7 linked regions of the Homo sapiens genome follow. The protein of the gene in region 2 purifies or fractionates together with the protein of the main gene of each other region. This does not show direct contact. Each region holds a gene or a part of one and is shown on either strand. Other genes may lie near its edges.

The links.
Region 1: the proteins of PCSK9 (region 2) and DNAJC10 purify together in Homo sapiens (affinity purification with mass spectrometry, with the first as the bait; one study listed by BioGRID). This does not show direct contact.
Region 3: the proteins of PCSK9 (region 2) and SLC25A12 purify together in Homo sapiens (affinity purification with mass spectrometry, with the first as the bait; one study listed by BioGRID). This does not show direct contact.
Region 4: the proteins of PCSK9 (region 2) and DNAJA1 purify together in Homo sapiens (affinity purification with western blotting; one study listed by BioGRID). This does not show direct contact.
Region 5: the proteins of PCSK9 (region 2) and UGGT1 purify together in Homo sapiens (affinity purification with western blotting; one study listed by BioGRID). This does not show direct contact.
Region 6: the proteins of PCSK9 (region 2) and MMP2 fractionate together in Homo sapiens (co-fractionation; one study listed by IntAct). This does not show direct contact.
Region 7: the proteins of PCSK9 (region 2) and DNAJA3 purify together in Homo sapiens (affinity purification with mass spectrometry, with the first as the bait; one study listed by BioGRID). This does not show direct contact.

The regions. Positions count from the first base shown.
Region 1 is NC_000002.12:182,726,257-182,729,756, reverse strand, and holds part of DNAJC10 (dnaJ homolog subfamily C member 10 isoform 1 precursor), read right to left. Parts: intron 1,182-3,500; coding exon 1,099-1,181; intron 895-1,098; coding exon 763-894; intron 1-762. UniProt on the Homo sapiens protein: Endoplasmic reticulum disulfide reductase involved both in the correct folding of proteins and degradation of misfolded proteins.
Region 2 is NC_000001.11:55,038,067-55,042,347, reverse strand, and holds the start of PCSK9 (proprotein convertase subtilisin/kexin type 9 isoform 1 preproprotein), read right to left. Parts: upstream 2,801-4,281; 5' UTR 2,511-2,800; coding exon 2,304-2,510; exon of another isoform or gene 1,945-2,303; intron 382-1,944; coding exon of another isoform or gene 259-381; intron 1-258.
Region 3 is NC_000002.12:171,782,905-171,786,244, forward strand, and holds the end of SLC25A12 (electrogenic aspartate/glutamate antiporter SLC25A12, mitochondrial), read right to left. Parts: intron 2,572-3,340; coding exon 2,370-2,571; 3' UTR 501-2,369; downstream 1-500. UniProt on the Homo sapiens protein: Mitochondrial electrogenic aspartate/glutamate antiporter that favors efflux of aspartate and entry of glutamate and proton within the mitochondria as part of the malate-aspartate shuttle.
Region 4 is NC_000009.12:33,031,773-33,035,272, reverse strand, and holds part of DNAJA1 (dnaJ homolog subfamily A member 1), read right to left. Parts: intron 1,058-3,500; coding exon 943-1,057; intron 1-942.
Region 5 is NC_000002.12:128,181,700-128,185,199, reverse strand, and holds part of UGGT1 (UDP-glucose:glycoprotein glucosyltransferase 1 precursor), read right to left. Parts: intron 3,071-3,500; coding exon 2,910-3,070; intron 1,526-2,909; coding exon 1,411-1,525; intron 1-1,410. UniProt on the Homo sapiens protein: Recognizes glycoproteins with minor folding defects. Reglucosylates single N-glycans near the misfolded part of the protein, thus providing quality control for protein folding in the endoplasmic reticulum.
Region 6 is NC_000016.10:55,482,198-55,485,697, reverse strand, and holds part of MMP2 (72 kDa type IV collagenase isoform 1 preproprotein), read right to left. Parts: intron 2,790-3,500; coding exon 2,563-2,789; intron 1,683-2,562; coding exon 1,534-1,682; intron 400-1,533; coding exon 271-399; intron 95-270; coding exon 1-94.
Region 7 is NC_000016.10:4,439,368-4,442,867, reverse strand, and holds part of DNAJA3 (dnaJ homolog subfamily A member 3, mitochondrial), read right to left. Parts: intron 1,494-3,500; coding exon 1,293-1,493; intron 601-1,292; coding exon 448-600; intron 1-447. UniProt on the Homo sapiens protein: Modulates apoptotic signal transduction or effector structures within the mitochondrial matrix. Affect cytochrome C release from the mitochondria and caspase 3 activation, but not caspase 8 activation.

The sequences.
Region 1 (3,500 bases), on a different chromosome or scaffold from region 2:
CTTGAATAATGCAGCAAAGCTCTATTTCTCAATAGCAGAATGTATTTCCAAATGATATCCTGATAATCTTGACAGTACAGATTCTATGGAACACATTTTAATAATACCATTTATAATCGTTCAGGTTCCTCACTGGAAACTAAGAAAAAAGATATCAGAGCTTTACATTCAATGAGACAACACTTGTAAAATACTTTGTAAACTACCAAATACAATATACATATTGTATAAATTATGTTCCTTAAGACAGAAACTGAAATTGGCAAACATTTAATTTTAAAATATAGCAAAGTCAATGGTGTTTTTTTTGCCAGGCACTGTGGCTCACGCCTGTAATCCCAGCACTGTGGGAGGCTGAGGTGGGCAGATCACCTAAGGTCAGGAGTTCAAGACCAGCCTGGCCAACATGGCGAAACCCCGTCTCTACTAAAAATACAAAAATTAGCCAGACATGGGAGCGGGTGCCTGTAGTCCCAGCTACTCGGGAGGCTGAGGCAGGAGAACTGCTTGAGCCCAGGAGGCAGAGGTTGCAGTGAGCCGAGACTGCACCCTTGCACTCCAGCCTGGGCAACAGAGTGAGACTCCATCTCAAAAAAAAAAATTCATAATCCAAAATGTTTATTATTACAGAAGACTAGTGAGATGGCACCTTGTAAAACAAGACTTAAAATGTTCTGCAAATTCTACATACTGTTATTTTCTCTACTATTTAACTTGTCATAATGTTTCACAAATTTAAAAAATGCTAACTTTATCCCTTACCATTCCAGACCGAAAAATGAAGAGGCTGGGATAGCTGTTGACTCCTTTCATTCGGCAAAGCATTCTATCATCACCACAGTTAACAGCTCCAATTCGAAGTAACCCATCCACTTCTTTAGCAAAGTCTCTCCACTATGACAGAAAAAGAAAACATATTTCTCTGATAAGACCACTTTTCTTCCCTTGAACACACTCCAAGCTATATATTTTTAAACCAGACATTTAAAGTATTTGATAATTATTTTTGATTACTATTCATAGAAAAAAAAATTCTAACATATAAATTGCAGATCAATTAGAAATAAAACTAGTAATGAGGATGTGAAAAATACATACTGTGGGAGCTAAATCATGGCAGTGTGAACAGCCTGGGGAGTAAAAATTTACAAACCACAGTTCTCCAGAATTAACAGCAGCATCTAAAAATACATAAAATGCAAACAACTTAGAATTATTTATTAAAGGTTCATGCATATTTTAGTTAAAAACTTTTTGTGGAGATCAGAATTTTAAAAAGTCATGCAATTTTCATATTGTCTTTCTCATTTTCTGTGTGATGTTTTTCTATATCTTCTACATAAATGACATTTTTAAAAAATTAAAAATTTTTTTTCCACAAGAAACATTTCAAATGTCAAACCAACAATAGCTTTTTAAAAAAACTCTCCTACGCCCATACTTGAAAAAGAAGCAGCCTCAAACTGCAAGATAAATATGGCCATAAAGTTGTAAAAAGTGACGGCACAAGAAATAGCAGCCAAACCTCACGTAAGAGTTTGTGTGCATGAGAGAAATAAAGAAGACAAATAGTAAGAGTGACTGAGATTTAAGCTCTTCTATTACATGCAGCACAGGTTAAGTAGGTTTAGTCAATTCTGACAGCTACTGTAAACTCTGAAAGAATAAAATAAGAGACCTACATAATACAGTAAGGATTGCGGGGATTAAATTTAATCTAAGCCCTAAACAAGACATTACCTTGGAAAATCATTTTGTTTGAAAAGGTTGAGGTTTTTAACAATTCAAAACATTAATACATATTTGCTAAAATTACAGATTTGAACAACATATAATATCTAGCCAATAGTACATTTTATATTTTATCTGTAAAATGACCTGATGCAAATTACAAATTTTACTCACTTAAAAAATTTAACATTGTAAAAATGTGCTTTCACATTCAAGATAAAAAGGCGAGGTTAATCTGCTTTTGGTTAAAGGATTTCCATATAATTCCATGTTAAAATTTATTATTTTAAAATAAAAATTTCAGAAATTACAGTAAGACATTAAATCACACATGGTATTCTAAATACGTGCAACTAATTCAGGCTAATTAGAAACAGGTGCAGGACTCAGTGTTCACCTACATTTCAAGTATAAGACAGACCTGTGGGAAAACAGTTAATCTACACATTACAGGCAAAGTGTGTAATTCAGGACTATGGGCTGTTCTTTGGCAATGTTTTCAAAGTCTGGCAAATGACCATTCTATAGAGGTGGTCGAAAAAATTGCCATATTGGTTTAGACCACAAACCAGTACAAATTTAGGTAAAAATATTAACAGAATTAATGCAAACTTTAATGAAAGAAGGGATTATCTTATCAGCTATAAACAAGTAATGAGGTAGTTATTTTTATATAAAAATAGAAAGCAATAATTACACAAGGTATTACTGTTCATAAGTCTTAAATAAAAATATGCTGTAAAACAAATTTGAATGGTATTTGACACAAAACCTTTCTTGTAGTAAAAATGTCTCCTACCCTGGTAACAGGCATACCTCAGATATTGTGGGTTTGTTTCCAAATCACAACATAGCAAGTATCACTATAAAGGAGTCACACAAATTTTCTGGTTTTCCAGTGCATATAAAAGTTATATTTACACTATATACAGTGTATTATGTAATAGCATTATGTCTAAAAAAAAAAAACAAACAAAACAATGTACATACCTTAATTAGAAAATAGGCTGGGCGCAGTGGCTCATGCTTGTCATCTAGCCTTTTGGGAGGCTGAGACAGGAGGATCACTTGAGCCCAGGAGTTTGAGACCAGCCTGGGAAACACAGCAAGACCCTGTCTCTATAAAAATAGCTGGACATGGTGGCACATGCCCGCAGTCTCAGCTAGTCGGGAGACTGAGGCAGCAGGATTGCTTGAGCCCAGGAGTTCAAGGCTGTGATGAGCTATGATCCTGCTGCTGCACTCTCCAGGTGGGGTGACAAACCAACCAAGGAACAAAAAATAACTTTATTGGTAAAAAATGCTAACAGTCATTTCAGCCTTTCAGCAAGTCATGCATGTCGTGATGTTGATGGGTGCTGACTGATCAGGGTGGTGGTTGTGTAAGGTTGGGGTGGCTGTGGCAATTTCTTAAAATGAGATGACAATGAAGTTTGCCACACTGATTGATGTCTCCTTTCCTGAAAGATTTTCTCTGAAGCGTGAAATGCTGTTTGATGGCATCTGACCCACAGTAGAACTTCTTTCAAAATTGGAGTCAAAACTGGCCTCAAACCCTGCTGCTGTTTTATCAACCAAGTTTATGTAATATTCTAAATCCTTTGTTGTCATATCAACATTGTTTACAGGATCTTCACCAGGAGTAGGTTCCATCTCAGGAAATCACTTTCTCTGCTCATCCATAAGGAACAACTCCTCACCGCCCCATGGTGAGATTATTATAATGAGATAATTATATTATAATGAGATCATTATAATGAGATTGCAGC
Region 2 (4,281 bases):
AGGTGCTACCATCAAATAAATCACAAAAAAAACTTTTGGTTTTCGTAACATTTTACATTTCAGACGGTGGATAAAGAACTGTGGAGGCCAGGCGTGGTGGCTCACACCTGTAATTCGAGCACTTTGGGAGGCTGAGGCGGGAGGATCACCTCCTCGGATCCACTGAGGAGGTCAGGAGTTTGCGACTAGCCTGGCCAACGTGGTGAAACCCCTTCTCTACTAAAAATACAAAAATTAGCCGGGCGTGGTGGCAGGTACCTGTAATCCCAGCTTCTTGGGAGGCTGAGGCAGGAGAACCACTTGAACCCGGGAGACAGATGTTGCAGTGAGCTGAGACTGCACCATTGCACTCCAGCCTGGGCAACAAGAGCGAAACTCCATCTCAAAAAAAAAAGAAAAAGAACTGTGGACATGTGCTCCTTATCTTCCACCTCTGGTTTTCCCAGCTCTGTATCTTTGTTCATGGTACCTCCTAATCCTAGAATAAAATTCTCATGACACCATCATCGCTGAACTCCTACTAATGCTTCAAAGACCCATCTGAAAATGCCTTCCGCTAAATAAAAATTGAATGAATTGGGAGAGTACTCTGTGCAGTGGAGTGTCAGTTCTGGAAACCCAGTTCTAATGCACCTGGGGTGACCTCCTCTCTCTGGGCCTCAGTTTCTCATGACTAAAAGAAAAGGATTGGTCTAAAAATTATTTTCTGCTTGCCAAAAAATATTTTCATTCTAAATTCGATTCCCACAAAATAACCATTGAATGAATGAATAAATGAACTTGAGGAGGCTCCTGTTCCAAACTTCCACCAGAGAAGAAACATCCTCAAGGGCTTGGTTCAGGTGGTCATACAGCCTCTGCTTACTCACCTCTCAGGATGGGGTACTCACTATTTCCAGAACAGTTGTTTTGGAGCAGTGGTAACTTGAAATGCCCTTTCTTATCCTGGCCACAACCCCACAACATCCCTCGAGAAAGTCAAAGGCTCAGGGAACAAGGAAGAGGGCTATACTGAGCTGAGTAAGGACTTGCCATCCTGCCACCCAGCACACTCAGACAGAAGCGTGGGCAGGCAGCTGTGAGTGGCAGAATTTTCCCCTCTGCCCCAGGAGCTGTGGTTTGGAGCAAAGACAATGTCACCAACAGGTCACACTGCAGACAGGGACAAAACTGCAAGTGATCCCCCCGGGGCTTGCATTGTAAGTTCACTCATGGTCAACAGAACTTTCCCTTCATCTCCCCATCTGCTGCCACTGAGCCGTAGGGACGATTGTCACCTCCCTTTTAAAGATTAGGCAATGGAGGCTCAAGGATAAGTGACTTGTCAAGCACCACAGCTAGTGAGAGGAAGCCAAGATTCAACCCCACATCTGACTCCAAGCTGGGGGACACAGAACCTCAGCCAAGTCCTGGGCTGGTAATACTTAGAAAAAGCTAGTGGTCTCGCCCCGGGAAGAAGCTTCCCACAGCCTGAGGGCCAGAAGCTGGCAGAGTTGTTGAGCAAACTCGCCCCGCACACGGTCGGCAGACAGCCAGGTGGGCTGAGGCGCCGGGCTCAGCTCCGGGGTCCCAGTACCAGGCGCACCACCTCCGGCTCCAGAGCACCAAGGGCCCTTCCCTGCCTGAGTCCTAAAGGACGCCAATGGGCCTCGAGAATACCTCCGCCCCTTCTCCCCTGCCCCTTCAGCTGGTTCTTTTCTTCGGCTGAAACAGATGGAATACTAGAGCATGAGTTCTGTGTCATAAAGAAATTGCCTCGTGCTCCCAGCATCTGCCGTCCTTCCCACCCCGCCCCTGTCTCGGGTAGGGCCTTCTCTCCAGGCCCTCCACCCTCCGCTGCCCATGTTTTCCAAACCAAATCGGAACCCACTATAATGGCAAGCCCGCTTTCTCTGTGCCTGGTGCAGTTCCCAGTACGTTCCAGGCATTCACTCCTTCACCCACCTGTGCCGCGGCGAGGCAGAAACTGGGAAATCTGGGCAGGATATCCTGGCAGTGCTCTGCTCGCCCTTCCTCGGCCTCCGGGTCTCCCAACCCCGCGAACCTTCCCACTGAATAGCGCAGCCGCACGCCCCAGCAAGTCCCCAAAGAGCCGGCCGTCCCCGCTCTCCACCGTGCTCCCCACTACCCGTCCTCCCCCGCCGCCTTGCCTGCAGTCCCCAAGATCGTGCCAAGCGAAGAGCCCTCGGCGACCTGCACTCCACTTCCTCTCTTACATGGGGGGAAACTGAGGCCCGAGAGGAAACAGCACCGCACCGTCCCGGCTGCGGGTTCGCCCCGGCCTCCCATCCCTACACCCGCACCTTGGCGCAGCGGTGGAAGGTGGCTGTGGTTCCGTGCTCGGGTGCTTCGGCCAGGCCGTCCTCCTCGGAACGCAAGGCTAGCACCAGCTCCTCGTAGTCGCCGTCCTCGTCCTCCTGCGCACGGGCGCCCGCGGGACCCAGGAGCAGCAGCAGCAGCAGCAGCAGTGGCAGCGGCCACCAGGACCGCCTGGAGCTGACGGTGCCCATGAGGGCCAGGGGAGAGGTTGCTGTCCTGGCGAGGAGACCTAGAGGCCGTGCGCGGTCCACGCCGGCGGCGCCTTGAGCCTTGCGGTGGGGAGGACTGTGCAGGAGCTGAAGTTCAGGAGCAGGGCGCGTGAAGGGGCGCGCGGAATCCTGGCTGGGAGCTGGGAGCCGCTGCTGCAACGACGCGTCCCGGCCCGCCCGAGCCAGTCTCACTGCCTGGCTCACTCCTCCAGGCTCAGACCCTGAACTGAACGGCGGCGCCCGCCTGCAACCATGAGCGCCTCGACGTCGCTGCGGAAACCTTCTAGGGTGTGGGTGCTTGACGCCTGGGGCGCGCAGATCACGCCACCAGAGCCCCATCGGACGATCCTATCTGATTAAACATTAACGGAACCCCCGGACTGGAGGATCAGGTTTCGGCCTCGCCCTCCCCAAACAGCGTCAGATTACGCGCAGAGGGAAGAAAAAACTCCCAAATCCTAACTGGGCTGGAAGGCAGGCCGGCGCCCTAGGGGCTCCTCCTCTCCCGCCTCTCACCCTGCGTGGGATGCCAGACTCCAAGTTCTGCCGGGCCCACCTTTTCAGTGTTTCCTGGGTCCACCTTGTCTCCTGCTGACCAGTGAGACTTCTGAATCAATCCTACTGTGGACTCCTCGCTGCCCACCGAATTCTTTCCACTGGCCTTAACCTGGCAGCCTTCTAAACTTAGCCTGGACCCCCTCCGGCCTCTGCCCTTTATGCACCCTGCACACTGACCTTACCAACTAGCTGCTCCTTGAAGAGATTGCTTGCTTTTGATGTCCAGCCTACATGCATTTCAAGGGATTTATACTACAAAGATTCAGGTTTTAAGTTTGCAAAGACGTCATATAGGTACATTCAGAATTCTATGGTAGGCACAAGCTCAGCTTTCCAGAAGATTCAATTTGCAAAGATTCCTTTTACACACCATGTTCAAGAAATCAACTGGACAAGCATCCAGTAAACACCTATTGTGTACCAGGCAGGAGGATGAAAAGGGGAAAGAGAGCTCCTGGCCTCAGATTGTACATGTGGCATGACATGAGGCTTGCTCTTTCTGGAAGGGCTGTCGATACTGGGAAGAAACAAAGGCGAATTTATGATCCTCCCTTGCAGATGCACAGCAGATTCCGAGTGAAATGGCCTGCTCTGAATCTAGGTGCTGGAGTCCAAAGTTGATGCTCTTTCCACTTTGTTTGCAAAGACCTCACTCCAGAGAGCCAGTGCACAAAGACAGTGCAACCAGTGGGTTGACAGTGACTCCATGAGGTAAGGTCAGAGTTATCCCCATCGAGCCCGCCATCGCAGCACAGAGTAGGAGCTCATGGTTTGCTGACAGAGGTGGCAGAGGTGGTTCTCCTTCCTGTTGCCTGTAATTGGAATTGTATTTGCAATGTGCTTTTGGCAGCTTCCTCATCAAAGGCCTCCCCTGGAGCAAGAATAGATGGGAGCTAACTTTCCCTGCTGCTCCCCTTTGGGACCTTGGCCTCTCACCTACCGGGGTCGTTACCGTGCACCCAGAGAATGATGAAGCCTGTGCACAGAGGGACATGGATGTCCCCAGGCCCAGGAAGGGGGCTGCTGTCCAGCATGCAGTGGGTGTGTTCTGAGGGAGGTGGGGGAGGAAGGAAGCACCCTGGGCTCTGCGACAGATGGAACCAGAGGGGCAGTCACTTCTCATCCCATATCCTCCACTGCACTCTTATGAGGGGCAGCCCCAGCTGGGCCTCCTGCCACTTGGCAGGGCTTTCAT
Region 3 (3,340 bases), on a different chromosome or scaffold from region 2:
AATATATATGTATGTGTGTACATATCTGTTGTGGACATGCATACATATGTTTCATGTACTTTGTCCATATTCCACAATAAGAAAATATACAAATGACCAGTAAATATGAAAAGACATTCAATCTCACTAGTAATTAGAAAAATAAAATAACCATGATCAGCTATCATGATTTGCTGAAAATGTAAAAGACTGATAATATCCCTCTTTGCTGAGGTTGCAAAGAAATAGGCATTCTCATATGCTGTCAAAGGAAAGTAAATTAATAACTCTTTTTGAAGAACAATGTGGCAATATGTATAAAAACATAAAGCTTGTCTTAAAAGTTTTCAATTGCAATTCCAAATATCTATCCTAATGAAATTCACATGCACTAAAGATATGTGTACAAAGATGTCTGCCATTCACTACAGCATTGTTTGCAGTAGTGAAAAAAATGAATAAATATCAATAAGGGAAGATTTATGAAAAGTATTATAACCCATACAATGAAATACTATGCAGCCATTAAAAATAAAACTTTATAAACTGACATGGAAAGATATCCAAAACACATTAAGTGAACAAAAGCAAGACACAGAATAACACACACATAACATAATCCTGTTTCTAAAATATAAATATGTACATATATTTCTATAGAGTTATGAAAAACAGACTACATATTCATGCTGTAACCTGTTAGCAGTGATTACCTCTGGGCCAGGAAGTGGTGGAGGTAGAAGGAGGGTAAGCGGGACACTTTCCCATCTCACTCTAGATACATACATAGGATTCTTTTGTAATCACATATCCATGGACTACTTATATATTTCTAACAAGTGGTAGTAGCAAAACAACTGTATTATTATTTGTTCCACTCCCATGAGACCAATCTAATACATTTGAAAATAACTTGCTTTCAAAGCTAATTCTTTTGTTCCTGGAGGGCCTCCAGGGAGCCTACAGTTGCAGTCACAGGGCTGTCAGCCATCAATCGAGGAGCACTGTGCAGGATACTAAGTAACTTGGTCTGTCTCCAGGCTCGCCTCTTGAAAATATTTGCATACATTCTCATATCCCAGCTTACTGGCAGTAGCAATAATGTCTTCCCAGAGCACTTTGGTAAGGTAAATAAATTCTGATACTGCACATCAAATCACATCCATATCAAAGTGTAGATGTGGCTGTCAAGATCTATGTTTAGATCCAAATTAGTAATCACGCCCTTGATGAGTGACTTTTAGAACAGTTTGCATTTGGATTCCAAAGTAAGAACCTAGACCCCACTAAATCACCATATAGAGCTTTTCTTCTCTTTCTTCTTCCCTCCCTTCACTCTGCGCTAGCCCTTTCTAAAACTAATTTTTCTGTTTTCTATAAAGGTGGAAGAAAGGGCGAACCCGATCATGAGTTATTTGCAATCAGTAGTCAATCAGAACAAAAAGTATTATCAGTATATTTACAAAGAAAAATCCAACTACATGTATACATTTTGGTGTGCATTTTATTTTTGACTGGAATCATATCCATATGAAGGGAAATTGTGAAAGTATCCTTTACTCTTTTGAAAGCTTGGCCTTTGCCTTACTGTGTCAAAGGAAAGCAAAACTAAGCCAGTAATGATGGAGATGTCCCTGTTTCCATATGCACACTGACAGGCGAGGAGCTGCCTAGGAAATGCTTTTTGATTGATGAACAGAGGAGGGTCTACACACATTAAATACAAATGGAAACACATCAGCACACACAAGTCATTAGCCTGGTCCTCTGGCATCCACTGGCATGCATCTTTCCAAAGTATCACTTATTCAGTGGTAGCAGCACTATGTCTCGTTATGCCTTTTATCAGCAAATACCTTTTTATTCCAGAATGGAAAACAAACTAGGAATTAAATACATCCAATATTGATGCTTTATTTCCATAAGTCACCAATAAGAGAATGAATTTAATTTTAATACATTTATTTTTGTGTGATTCTTAATAAAACACTTTCAAAACATTCTGTACATTTCAAGCCACTCAGAACCGCATTACATTTCTACAAATGTGATTTGTTGGGATGAGGTGCCAAGATGTCTCTGTACAAAGATGTACAATATGTACAATCACTGTAAGTGCAAGCTGTGCAAAGCAGAGTCTAGAACACTAATTCATGCCAAGGCTTACAAAAACATTTCAACACATAAGACTAAAGCTTGAAACAGCGTTGTGGTTTTTTCCCTGGGCAAATGATTATTTTATAAACAAGTATATGTATATGTCATACAGAAAGAAGAGTTTGACTCCTCAGCTCAGTCAGTACCATGCAGCTGACTGGATACATTACAGGGCTGCTCTCCTAGGCCTCTTTCTTCAAGGCGCCATTTTGCCACACTCAACAGTTGTCTCATCACTGAGTGGCTGCCACTGCTGCCTTTGGCTGAACCACAGCAACACTAGGAGACTTAAATTTCGGGAGATAAAGGCCAAATTTGTTTTCGATGCCTGCAAACGTGGCTGTGGCGAGTCTGTATCCACCGATGTGATCAGGGTTGGCAGGAGGAAGGTCTGCAATGCGTGACTTAGGTGTTGGTTCTGAACCAGCGGGTTTGCTGTTGACAGAAAAAAAGCCAATGGTTAGCATGCTCAAGGTGGATGAGCGCAGCTTACAGCTGGACATTTTCGGTCTGACCCATGTGCCACAAAGAAGAATGTTTCTCTCAACCATTTCCATGGCATCTGTGCTGCATGACTAGAAACCACAGTCATGATTTATAGCTGCTTTGACAGCAACTTATCTACATATTTGATTTACAAGAGAAATGGCCTTATTTCCAATGCTTGCATACATATATAAACAAATCCATAGGAAAAAAGTCAGAAGAAAAGACACTCAAATATGAAGACTCTCTGGGTAGTAAGATTATGGATGATTTTTTTCTTTTTTCTTCTTGTAAAGATGGGGTCTTGCTATGTTGCCAAAGCTGGTTTCGAACTTCTGGTCTAAGGAATCCTTCTGCCTTGGCCTCCCAGAGCACTGGGAGGTGTGAGCCACCACACCCAGGCTGGTTTTTTTCTTTTATGCTTTATGGTTTTCCAAATTTTCTGCACTTAGCACATATGAAAGTAATTTTTAAAGTATATATTTTTCTTTTGACATAACTTTAGAAGTTAACTTTTTATGTAGTAGACTCATAAAGATTATCAATTAAATTATTTAAAGAGAGATAGGCCGGGCATGGTGGCTCACGCCTGTAATCCCAGAACTTTGGGAGGCCGAGGCAGGCGGATCATGAGGTCAGGAGATCAAGGCTATCCTGGCTAACACGGTGAGACCCCGTCTCTACTAAAAATATTAAAAAAAAAAAAAATTAGCCAGGC
Region 4 (3,500 bases), on a different chromosome or scaffold from region 2:
CTCCTGCCTCAGGGCCTGCCACCATGCCTGGCTAATTTTTTAATTTTTAACAGAGATGGCATTTCACCATGTTGGCTAGGCTGGTCTTGAACTCCTGACCATCCACCTCGGCCTCCTAAAGTGTTGGGATTACAGGCGTAAGCCACCAAACCAAGCTGAAATATTAATTAATCCTAAACTAGTTTAAGATGTTCCCAATTTCACCTCCACTCCATTAAAAAAAAAAAAAAAAAAAGGTGGGTTCTTACTGTCACCCAGGCTAGAATGCAGTGGCATGATCATAACCTTGAACTCCTGAGTTCAAGCCACTCTTCTGCCTCAGCCTCCCCAGTAGCTAGGACTCCTGGCCTCAAGTGATCCTCCCACCTCAGCCTCCCAAGTTGCTGGGAATATAGCATGCACAGAGGGTGTTATGTTAGCCATGGATCACAAACATTTGCTGTTAATCATCCATCTTTCTTGTGCTTCAGTGTTCATCATACTCATTATTTAGCTCAAAATGGTAGACCTGAATTTATACTTAGTATTGAGTTACAATTTAAGTTTCCTACAGAGATGCTTTTGGATATTTATAATTAAAAGCAATTCAATTTATCATAAATGAGATTGAAAACTGGTGAGAGCTTTAAGGCACTTAAATTGCTTTACAAAGATTGAGGGCAAATTTTTGTCCAGGGATGTTTTCCCCACCCATCTGCTGCTTAGGTTCACACAAAACATCTAATTGAAACACATTTTCAACGTTCCATACTTAGAGACAAAAAGCTAAAAATCTGATCCTATGTATTCAACCTCTTATGATCTGAACAATGGTTAACAATCTTCCTGAGAAATAGGTTCTAAGAGTAATGGAAAACACTTTAAAAAAAACAAAAAAACAAAAAACAAAACCAACAACCCAAATATGTGATATCAATTTGAGTGGTTGATAAAAGTCTTTACCGAGTAAAAACAGCATGGTCCTTCTGATCTAACACAATGATAATATCGCCTGGCTCCAGTCCTGGTTCTTGGTCTCCTTCACCATGGAATGTTATCTTCTGGCCATCTTTCATGCCTAAAAACAAAACATTAATTTTGTACTTTTATTAAATATCCAACTAAGGTCAGAATCATAAAATCTATACATAGATGTTTGTTTATGCATAAAAATCACAGAAATGACTAAGAAAGCCCACTTAAGTAGTTCAGTCCAATTTGCTCCTGAAGAAAGGTATCATAGTGGAGAACACAAACTCCAGAGGCAAAGAGACTAGCCTTCAAATCTCAGAGCTGCTATTCACTGGCTGGATTACCCTGGGGAAGTAAGCTGCATATCCTTTCCAAGTTTCAACTTTCCCACAGACACCTACACCTCATTAGCAATATTTAGAGTATTAACTCAACAGGTATATGCTGGTACTAAACCATGACTGGCTAACACTGGTTATAACCAAAAAATGTTAATTAAGTATTTCAGTTTCATTACTTATAACACATCAAATTACTTCTATTAAAAGTCTAACAGCAATGTAAATCAAGACCCTTCTATTGTAGTATTTATATATAAAACTAAAAAAATTTTAAATCTATAATCTTCTCTTGAGATAGGATCTTGCTCTGTTGCCTAGGCTGGAGTGCAGTGGCACAAACATGGCTCACTGCAGCCTCCATCTCCTGGGCTCAAGTGATCCTCCCACCTCAGCCTCCCGAGTAGCCAGGACCACAGACCAGCTAATTTTTGAATTTTTTTTTTTTTAATAGAGATGGGGGTTCTCATGTCGCTCAGGCTGGTCTTGAACTACTGGGCTCAAGGGATCCTGCCTCGGCATCCTATAGTGTTCGGATTACAGACCTGAGCCCCTGTGCCTGAAAATCCGTATTTTAAAGAACTATTCAGTATAGTCCCCTTAAAAAAAGGGTAATTATACTTTGAGAGGCCGAGTCAGGAGGATACCCTGAGGATAGCACCCTGGAGCACAGGAGTTCCAGACCTTGTCTCATTTAAATTAAACAAGCAAACAAAACAATCAGTGCTAGACACTCCCTTAGCCCATGTGGTCCGTAAAATACAAGGGGAGGAGTATTTTCTAACAGGGCAAAAAAACACGCCTTTTTTTTTTTTTTTAAACTGAGACTTCGTGCCCCTCACCTCTGACCCACATATTTTAGTTCAGTAAGGGTTTGGGCAACGTCTCTTAGAACATAACTCATGTAAGAAAACCTGTGTTTGTAGAGTATTACACCAAAGCAGTTATCTCCTGATTATTTCCCAAGATCACTCTGGTTACCTAACAGAGCAATCATGTTTCACCTTTACGTATGGAAAATATTAATCCTGTATAAACAGAGCCAACAGTACAATGAATTCCTACATATCCATCCAATTTGGCTTCAGCAGTTACTAACTCATGACTAATATTTCATGTATTACACCCCTACGCATGCCCCCCACATATACTTTCAAGCAAACTCCAACTATATCCATTAACCCACAAATACTTCAGTACGTACCTCTTAAATAAGGACTTAAAGCGCTATCAGTATCATACACTGACAAAATTAAACAATCTGTCTTTAATCGTGTATTGAGGCAAAATAACTTGTTATGCTAGGGAAGCAATTAAACTCAGCTAGGTTTTCCTGAATACAGAGTAAGAGTAGGCACAGCACAAATGCCTTCACTTGCTATATAGTTAGGGCATTAATTTCAAGTTCTCACTTACAGTCCATTGTTGATAGGTTCTTGGAAATTGCTTTAAATGAAATGACACATAACAAGACCAATTTTTTTCCCCTCAGCTGTGTTACAGTGACATGACATTATTTGAGGACCTGCATGACATTATTTGAGGTCATTCTGCTAGAAGTCCCAGTTTCCAAGAACCTATCAACAACGTTAAGACTTACTCTGTATGCTATTGGTATCAAGAACACCTCAAAGTATAAACCTTAGGCATGGGCCCACTAAGGGGTAAACACAGATTTATTAAGTTCAACAACTGGCCAAGGAAACTTATTTTTACCTTTCAATGTACTACATTCTTGGGTGGAACCCTGGGGGTCAGAGAGGCCAGTATCATGAGTCACATGATAGAATCCTATTGCAGCCACTTATGTTAATGTAGATTTGTATATTAATATGGAAATATGTTCAAATATTAACAGTTCCAGATTGGTATCATACCACAGTACAGTATAATAGTAGACCCATTTATAAACAGCAAAATCTGAAAAGAGATTACCATAATGTTGACTTAAGTTTCCTTCTGGGGTTATATACATTTCTTAAAATTTCTGCAGTGTATTGCTGTAATACATTTTAAAATGTTTTTGCAAGTTGACAAGAGTAAAATTTAAAAATTGACAAATCAATCAAATCCCGAGAATACAAAAAAAAGGTTATATAGTTATTTCTAAATCTGGAGCCCAATGGGTTAGGGAAGTGTCAAGTCTAAAAAAATGAAAGGTAGTCTATCAAATCAATTAACGGAGCATTTAAATATAATAGATGGGCAAGT
Region 5 (3,500 bases), on a different chromosome or scaffold from region 2:
GAGAGAAACAAATACTGTTGGGTGATACCATTTTTGAACTCAAATTATTCCCCAAAATAATTCTGCAAAAACAACGCCTGACACACTACAGAAGATAAACAAATATGTGATAGACAGTATGAACAAAAGAATAACAGAAATAATACAACAGAATCAGATCCATAGTAGCTCCATAAATTAGAAGATACCAGGTATCACACAAATTTTAAAGTAAGTAGAGCCGGGCACTGTGGCTCGTGATTGTAATCCCGGCACTTTGGGAGGCCAAAGCGGGTGGATCACTTGAGGTCAGGAGTTTGAGACCAGCCTGGCCAACATGGTGAAACCCTGTCTCTACTGAAAATACAAAAATTAGCCAGGAGTGGTGGTGCGTGCCTGTAATCCTAGTTACTCAGGAGGCTGAGGCAGGAGGATCACTTGAACCCGGGAGGTGGAGGTTGCAGTGAGTGCAACCCAGAGCATGCCACTGCACTCCAGCCTGGGAAACAGAGTGAGATTCTGTCTCAAAACAAACAAACAAACAAAAAAGTTTACCTTTTATTATTCCATTGAGATAGAGGAGAAGAAAATGAGCAAATTAAACTAGTGTTTATGGATACATGCTTAAACAGTAAATCTATAAAGAAACAAAAATGATTACCATAAAAGTCGTGATGCTAGACACTTTTGTTAGGGAGGAAGGATGGCTTCTGGGATGCTGATAATGTTCTAGTTCTTGAACTAGGTTGTGGTATCTGGGTATTTGCTTCATAATAATTCCTGGATGTATGTGAATATGTATGTATGTTTTTTGTATACTTTTCTTTATGGATGCTACATATCACAATAAAGGTTTAAAAACATTTAAGTAGACTTAAGCAAAATAAAATGCTTAAAATATGTGAAATATGTATCCAAAACCCTTAAACTACAATCTCACCTCTGAAAAATGCTTAACATTAACAAACAGTAATTTAGCTAGCCTTGAAACACATCATGGTTTCTGACATAGAAAAAGGGGAAGCTGTGATACTATACTGTGATTCTATACTACGAATCCTGAGCTATTTAGTTCCTACAGCAGAAAAACAAACTGACCCTAGTAGGTAGAGAAACAAACCTATGAGATTAGTTTGAGTACAAAATACAAAGATATGCTAATGGTTCAGAGAGGCAGCATTCTCCTTCCATCTCTCTCCCCAGCCAGCATCAAATCTATGACATTTTTCACGCTGATATGTCTTGAGGGCAGATAAAAATCTCTCTCTCTCTCTCTCTCTCTCACACACACACACACACACACACACACACCATGAAAAAACAAGACGCCATCCTGTGAGGAGAGGACTGAAGACACAAGTAATACTTCATTTTCTGATGCAACACTGTATACCCGTCACTCACAGTTAACCATAAAAAATGGACACTTACTTGATCAAGATTTGAAAGGCTGTTAGGGTCCTGACTCAGACCTTGGTACTGTCCCCTGAGTCTGTCACCAGCAGCTATTTTCCTAAACTTCTTCAGATCCACAACATATAGTGCACTGAATAAAGAAGACCCGCTTGTTACAACCAACCATGGATTACGACAGGAAAACTAAACCCAATGAATAATGGAACAGGCCACTAGCCAAATATTCTGGCTTTTCTTTGAAAAGGTATGCTACAGCCCTACAGTGGAGTTAAAGTGTGCTACTTTAAAGATCTCTAAGAAAGTCACTGCAAAATCTATACTGTGCTATGCTTTTGTTACTGTTCTGTATTTGCCATCCGAAAGAAATAATCTCAGACCAAAGATTTCTAGCATATGCGGCAGTAACAAAAGCCATAGTAACTGATAAACAACCATTATTCAATGATATCCTGATGATGTCTTCAATGTTACAGGGGGGGGAAAACCCCAGAGTGTTACAGTCCTTACAGTTCTTTTGGACCAGGAATGTAAAGAATGAAGCCACCATCACTAAACCCCAGCAGTGATCTCTGCATGTGCCGCTTCCTACACGTTCCTCTTCCCTGCACATCTTCAAATCACACTTCTCGCAGAGAAGAGAATGGGGTGCTCATTAGAAATGTAACAACACACACACTGTTCGACCTAAAAGGTCTACGTCTAGGAATTTATCTCACAAATATATGAGATATGAAAAATTATTTAGTAGATTATTCATTGCAACATTGTAGGTCACAGGGAAAACTATAAATAACACTCACACACTGGAATAATATGCAGCTATGAAAAGGAATCAGGTCTCTCTCTATTCACTGAGAAGATGTATATGACATTAAGTAAAAAAAAAAAAAAAAAAGCCAAGTTACAAAATGTATAAATAGGTAGCATATTTTGTGTAAAAAAAAAAAGAATACACATTCACAGCTGTTTCTGTAAGAATTAAGAAAATCTGGAAGGATAGACAGTCAATAAGTTGGGAGGTTATCTGCTGTGAGAACAGGAACTGAGTAGGAAAGAGAGAGACAGGATTAGGAAGTTTTTTTTACACTGTATTTTTTTTTTTTTTTGAGATGGAATCTCACTCTGTCATCCAGGCTGGAGTGCAGCGGCGTGATCTCAGCTCACTGCAACCTCCGCCTCCTGGGTTCAAGCAATTCTCCTGCCTTAGCCTCCCGAGTAGCTGGGATTACAGGCGCCCACCACCATGCCCAGCTAATTTTTGTATTTTTAGTAGAGACGGGGTTTCGCCATGTTGGCCAGGCTGGTCTTGAAATCCTGACCTCAGGTGATCCACCTGCCTTGGCATCCCAAAGTGCTGGGATTAAGGCATGAGCCACTGCACCCAGCCACTGTGTATTTTTTATCATTTTTATTTTTCAACCATACCAATGTATTACCTATTCACAATTTTAACCACACAAAATCAATTTTAAGGAAAACCCCGTAACAGTGTTAGGAGTGCTTCTTTTCAGTACCTGATATGATACTTTCGCCCGGCTAAATGACTGGCCCAGTACCCTGACTTCCAGAACCTGTAGCCGTCCATTTCTCTTCGGCTGTCACAGAAAGGAGTGTAACCATAAGGAGCACCATCCAAATTGAAATCTCTTAACTCTTTCAGATCTGTTCGTACAATCTGGAGAATATAAAAAGTCATTTGTTAAGCAACCATGCAGACAGCTCTAATGCGGTTTCCTTCAGATACAGAGTGGCTCGCTTAAGGCAGCATGGAAGGCTGCTCCGTGGTTAGTGGCACAGGCACTAGGGGCAGATGCACTTTGATTGCTCCACTTATTACCTGGTTGACTCACTAACATGTAAGACACTTCTTAGCAAGGTGTGTGGGAGTAGGAATAAAACAAATTTCAACTGCTTAGCCTTTCTGTGCCTCAGTTTCTTCATCTGTAAAATGGAGATAATGATAATGACAGTACCTATCTCACAGGGTTGCTGGGAGGATTATGTAAGTTAACATATGGATGGACAGATGTAGAATAATGCCTTGCCCATCGTAAGTACTCAACAAGGATTAAATGTGGCTATGTTACAATCAGGAAGGCACACTT
Region 6 (3,500 bases), on a different chromosome or scaffold from region 2:
CCGGTATCAGTGCAGCTGTTGTACTCCTTGCCATTGAACAAGAAGGGGAACTTGCAGTACTCCCCATCGGCGTTCCCATACTTCACACGGACCACTAAAGAGTGACATGGAAGGGGGAGGTTGGACTTCTCCAGGCCTTCTTTGGAGACCAAGATTCTGACTCACCCAGATGTGTGACTTTCCTCCCCTCCCACCTCTCTGGTCCAAGCAAATGGAGTGGAGAGAGGACAGGAGAGAAGGTCTGGGGCATGCAGAGGGCCCCTTTCTCACCTTGGCCTTCTCCCAAGGTCCATAGCTCATCGTCATCAAAATGGGAGTCTCCCCCAACACCAGTGCCTGGGGCGAAGGCATGAGCCAGGAGTCCGTCCTTACCGTCAAAGGGGTATCCATCGCCATGCTCTGAAACACACACTGGGTCTTAGCGTCTAGCTGTGCCACCTAGACCCTGAAACCCCTCCACACCCCATCTACATGTGGAGCCTGTCAGCCCACCCAGCATCTGTCCCCTTCCCTTGTCCCAGTGGGGTTATCCAGGACTGTCAACAGGAGCTCAGTAGAGATCTGCTGACCTGGTTGTTACCATCCTATGGTCTACACTGCTCTCCCAGGTTTACATGACTCCCAGTATCCATACCCTCTACCTCCATTGTCTACTCTACCACCATGACACTATATGTACCACATACCCACATTACCACACTAGTGTCCTCACCCCATCTTCATCATCCCCAGTGTCTATGCCATCCTCCATCCTGTCAATACTGCCCTCTTAACCACAATCCTGCCTTCATGTCACACTATCACCAATATCTGCAACATGAATCCTCATGCCCACCTTGTCACCAAGGCCTGTACCACCCACCCACTTGTCTACATTGTTTCCCCTGCTCTTTACCTTCATCACTTACCACTCAGTGTCTATACCACATACCTTTATGTCTGTGCTACTGGCAGTGTTCACACCATAAACTCACATGGCCACCTGGCCCCAGGTTCTACGACCCTTCCTCTAGTGTCTACACTGCTCCACTGTTTCCAAACCACTCTCATATATCTACAGTTCCTCAGTGTCTACCAGCATCATCCAACAGAGCTTTCTGTGATTAAGAGGAATATTCTTTGTCTGTGCTGTCCAAAATCAATAGTCACTAGCCTCCTGTGTCTTTTGAGCACTTAAAATGTGCCCAGTGTGACCAGGAAACTAATTTAAAATTTTTAACTAATTTAAATTTAAACAGCCATGTATATTCTGCCTAATGGCTGCCATATTGGACAGCACAGTAGACCACTTGCTTCGGGTTTAGACGGCCTCCAGGTTATACCACAACACACCATCTGCCCCCATGTCAACGTGGCTCTCCAGTGTCCACTCCGTGTTGTGCTGCCCCCATCTAAACCACCCCCAGGGCCCACACCATCTACTGTCCTATCTAAGCCGCCCTTAGGATCCCCACGCCCCTCTAATGTCCATCTCACCCCCTCGTCTCAACACTGATCCCTGCTGGCCCCTCTTCTGCCCCATCTTCTGCCTACCCCAGCGGCCAAAGTTGATCATGATGTCTGCCTCTCCATCATGGATTCGAGAAAACCGCAGTGGGGTCACATCGCTCCAGACTTGGAAGGCACGAGCAAAGGCATCATCCACTGTCTCTGGGTCCAGATCAGGTGTGTAGCCAATGATCCTGGAGGTGGTAGAACTGCATGTGAGTGTGTATGCATGTGCATAAGTGTATGTATATGCAAGTATGTGTGTGTGCACAGATGTATGAAAAAGTTTGAGTGTGTGTGTGTATGTGAACATACAAGTATATGCACAAGCACGGGAAGGGTGCACAGGTATGTGTATGTATATGTGAGCATGTGCCTGCGTGTATGTGTGTGTAGGCTGGGCAGGGCTCACTGCCAAGGACAACCCTCCCAGAATGCCTTGAAGACCCAGGGAGTCCCAGGCCAGCCAACATTTTTAGGCCCCAGCTCAGGAGTTCCATCTGTCACTTCTGGCTGGTGGGGGAGGGCCATAAGTAGTGCATTATGGGGCACAGGGCAAAGATCCCACCATTGGAACCCAGCACCACCCATACAGAGCACAGCTCTTGGCCCAATTAGCAACCAGTTATAACCCAATTGGGCTGCTAAACCCAATTAGCTACCAATCATCACGTTCCTTCTGCCCATCCCAATGACCTCATCTAAAAACAATAACAATGACTAGCATTACTACACTCTTGCTCTGTGTCAAAAATCATAGAAGCCGTTTGTATTAGTTCAGCCTAGCTTAGTTCCCCAACATACCATATAAGGGCATTTTTTAAGCCCCATTTTGTAGATTGGAAAGCCAACATTCACAGCACTGAAAAGTAACCCAATGTCTCATGGCCAGCAAGTATGAAACTCAAGTCTGTCTGACTTCATTTTCTAAGAACTGTGTATTGAAACTCCCTAAGATGTCAAGCCTTCACAAAAGACACCTCATGGATCCCCTGAGTGGAGAGAATGCATGGGTCAAGGAGACTCGTGTCCCTCAGCCCCATGGCCCTGCCTCCCCAAGCCCTGCCCCGGCACCTGTATGTGATCTGGTTCTTGTCCCACTTGGGCTTGCGAGGGAAGAAGTTGTAGTTGGCCACATCTGGGTTGCCGCAGCGTGGCTTCCGCATGGTCTCGATGGTATTCTGGTCAAGATCACCTGTCTGGGGCAGTCCAAAGAACTTCTGCATCTTCTTTAGTGTGTCCTTCAGCACAAACAGGTTGCAGCTCTCCTTGGGGCAGCCATAGAAGGTGTTCAGGTATTGCTGAAAGAAATGCACACCCCCAAGGCAATTAGCCACATTAGGATGGCACAGTACTGACCAAAGCAGGCTGTAGCAATCAGCCCCCCAACCCAGTGCCATAGTCCAGACAGGAAATAAGCCAGGGGTCCCAGAGCACTGGGTGGAGTACTGGGTTCCCAAACCAGCACGGTCACCCATTAGTTGAGCGACAGGACATACAGCTATAGAGAGCATGGCTACCACTTGTTGGTGCTGGGTGCTGACTATATGTCCAGGCACTAAAGTCAGAATATGTTAACTCATTTAATGCTCAAAACTCTGTAATGTAGATATACTAACCCTATTATACAGAGGAGGAAACTGAAGCACAGAGAGGTTAAGAAACTTGCTTACGATCACACAGTTCACAAATGGTAGATCTGGATTTGGGACAAAGCAATCTGGCTCCAGAGGCTGTGATATGGAATCATTATACTCCAGCATCCTTCCTTTACCTCTATCAACTCATTTATCTACCTTGCGGCTGGTGACTTGGGGACTTTTTTCCTCCTGTTTTCTTCTAAAGAGATTCAAGGACTATGTGCATGGGCTCTGGCAGTAGACAGACCTGGGTTTAAATCCTGAATCAGCCATTTGCAAAAAGAAAGTAGTCCTGTCCTTCATGAGTCATACAACTGGCCCTGCCCAAACTGAGGCCCAAACTGAGCAGGTCCCTGCAGAGGTTCAGGGAGC
Region 7 (3,500 bases), on a different chromosome or scaffold from region 2:
AGGGCCTCAATCTGTTCATCTGATTTTCTAGAACACACAAACTTCTGCACTCCAGATCATCAACTTGACCACACGACACTGAAAAATATGATACCGCCTGTCTACAGAAGTACCTGAAGACTCCTGGGAGCTGAACAGTACATTTAAAAAAGATTATTTCCCCTTGAATTACCAAAGCAATTGTTAGAAAAATAAAGAAGAAAGTGACAACTGGATGCAATCCCCCGCCCCGCCCCCGGAGCTGCTGTGCTCTGGTTGCTGAGCCTGTGGTATCAGGGAAAGAGGAGCACAGGCTCGTCTCCTCAGGGTCACGGGGGAAAGACAGCCAGGCTGAGTTCACCAACTCCCCCAATTCCCAGCATACGTTCTCTGGGAGCAGTGCCACAACCAGCTCTTCTCAGTCAGTGGTGCAAGCCGTGGGAGGTGGAGTCTCGGGCAGAGCCTTACCATGCCGGAGCCGCCACAGTAGTGGCAATGCTGCACCTTGGTGCCGGGCTCGTTCCCCTTGCCGTTGCAGCGCTCACACGTGTCCATGATGTTCACGGTGAACTCCTTGTTGACCCCCTTTGCAGCTTGATTGAATGTCAACTCCATGAAGTACTAAAGAAACCAAGGGACAGCCTGTCAACTTTTGTTTGCAACGACCAAAACTGACGCTCGGCTCTAAAGGGAAAGGAGGGTACTGGCCCACATTTTCAGTCACTCTTTCACCACTGTACTTACTTGCACTCTGCCAAGTAAGCATAGGTAGGACTCACTGAACGAATTCTGCCCTACTCTTTGGGATTTTTAAGAGATAATGTATGACTTAAATGAAAACGTACTTTCAACAGACTGAAAATGTTCACAGATAAATACTCGTACATGGCACTTAAAAACAGCCTGAATGATCCACAATCATAATTTAGATCATAAATATATCCCCTCTCTCTTCCACTCTGACAGTGTCTTATAAGGACATAAATGAGAGAGGATCAGCAGTGCCTTCCCACCGGACAGAACTCTCCTGGAATACTGTAGCAGATGAGAGACAACACTCACACCCTCATGGGCTCTGAAAGCCTTAGGTGCTACCTCATTATGCAACTGTTAAGAATACCATCAGAATGGACATACTCATTACTACCTATGCGATTTTTCAAATACTGAAATTATTTTCTACTAAAATGGCTGCCTCCAGATCACTCCATTTAAGCTGCCTTGCCTTTCTGAGAAACAGAAACTGATAAAAAAATTTGTTTGACCCATACTTAGTCTAAAATTTGAATAATTCTTCCAAGTGAGGAACTTACTTCCTGAGGCTGATCAAACACGGTCTGGAAATCTCCAAATGAAGAGGATGAGAACTCGCCAAAGATCTTCCTGAACAGCTCCTCGGGGTCCACAGTGGGGCCTCCCTTCCAGTAGCTATGCTGGGAGCCGCTGGCCCCAGGATCGAAGCCTGCAGAGCCGTAGGCATCGTACTGCTTCCTCTTCACCTCATCACTCAAAACCTACAGTGAAAGGCAGAGCCACTGGGCATCCCAGGTCTACCAAGGCCCAGGAATACAGACAAGAGTTCACAGCAAATAAGGCAGCCATAACATTTATTAAGTGGCCCTGTGTGCAAACACATCCTATGAGGTTGGGGTGGGCCTGTGACTAGCACCTAGAAGAGGGATGAGATGACCAAACTGAATGCTAAGTGTAGGGCGTGAAGTGCTTCCAAAAGTCTCACGAACTCTCCCGCCGTCGCGCATGCTGGGAAAATGTTTGTGTTGATCCTCGCTTGACCTCACAGGCACCCTGGATTCTTCACAGATTCACACTTCACCTCTCTCCTCAGGGGACATTACCTCGTAGAGAATTTATGCTTCCTACCCTTACCTTCATCGAAAGGTTTTCTGCAAGCCAGAACAACCGGAGTAACAGAAGTAACAGCAACGACAATAGCAGTGGTGCAATCCTAGCTCACTGCAGCCTCAACCTCCCAGGTTGAAGCAATCCTCCTGCCTCAGCCTCCACAGTAGCTGGGTCTACAGGTGCACACCACCAGTCCTGGCAAATTGTTTTAAGTTTTTGTAGAGACAGGGTCTTGCTATGTTGCCCAGGCTGCTTTCAAACTCCTGGCCTCAAGCGATCCTCCCACTTCGACCTCCCAAAATACTGGGATTACAGGCATGAGCCACTGGGCCTGGCCCACAAAACTGTTAATAAGGACTAACTACCTCAAAAAGGGGGATTAGGGAGGGACAAGGAAAAATGTAGTATTCACTTTGTATCTTTTTTTTTTTTTTTGAGACGGGAGTCTTGCTCTGTCGCCAGGCTGGAGTGCAGTGGCGCGATCTCGGCTCACTGCAACCTCTGCCTCTCGGGTTCAAGTGATTCTCCTGCCTCAGCCTCCCGAGTAGTTGGGACTAAAGACATGCACCACCACGCCCAGCTAATTTTTTTGTATTTTTAGTAGAGACAGGGTTTCACCACGTTTGCCAGGATGGTCTCGATCTCTTGACCTCGTGATCCGTCTGCCTCAGCCTCCCAAAGTGCTGGGATTACAAGCGTGAGCCACCGTGCCTGGCCCTCACTTTGTATCTTTTTTTTATGTGTTTGTCTTACTTTTTTTTTCTTTAATTAAAAAGACACTGCCCTAGGCTGAGTATGGTGGCTCACACCTGTAATCCCAGGACTTTGGGAGGCCAAGGCAGGTGGACTGCTTGAGTTCATGAGTTCAAGACCAGCCTGGGCAACATGGTGAAACCCCATCACAAGAAAAATACAAAAAAATTAACCAAGAATGGTGGTGCACGCCTATAGTTCCAGCTACTTGGGAGGCTGAGGTGGGAGGATTGCTTGAGCACGGAGGTTGAGGTTGAGGCTGCAGTGAACCGTGATTGCACCATTGCACTCCAGCCTGGGCAACAAAGTGAGACACTATCTCAAAAAAATAGGCACTATCCTTAAGGCCAAACAGAAAAGAGTACGCTTCCTCCAAAGGAAAAGACACTTCCACCTAGAATGGAGGGGGACTAAGAAAGCAGGTGGAGGACAGCTTGGTGCCTAGGGTAACTTTTAGGGCACCCAGTTAAGATGCAAAGGAGGAAGGCTGGCAGAGGAGGAGTCAGGTGGGAGTTCATGACTTCCTGGTGGGTTTTATCTCCTGGTTCCAGCCCTTCCCAAGGAATTGCTGCTCTTAGGTTCTGAGGCTCGGTCCGTTTAATAACATCCCCCTTGAAGACAGAAGTCAGCAACACGGTGGATTAGGACTCTCCAAAACTCATGCCCCTGGCAGAAACATCAGATCAACTAACCATGTGGAAAAACACATTCACAAGAATAACACCCCCCCGCCCCATTAAAAATTGAATCTTCTGGGTGCAGTGGGGAACCTGTAGTCCCAGCTACTCAGGAAGTTGAGGTTGAGGCAGGAAAACTGCTTGAGCCCAAGAGTTTGAGACTGCAGTGAGCTGTGATCTCGCCACTACACTCCAGCCTAGGTAACAGAGTGAGACCTCAACTCTTTT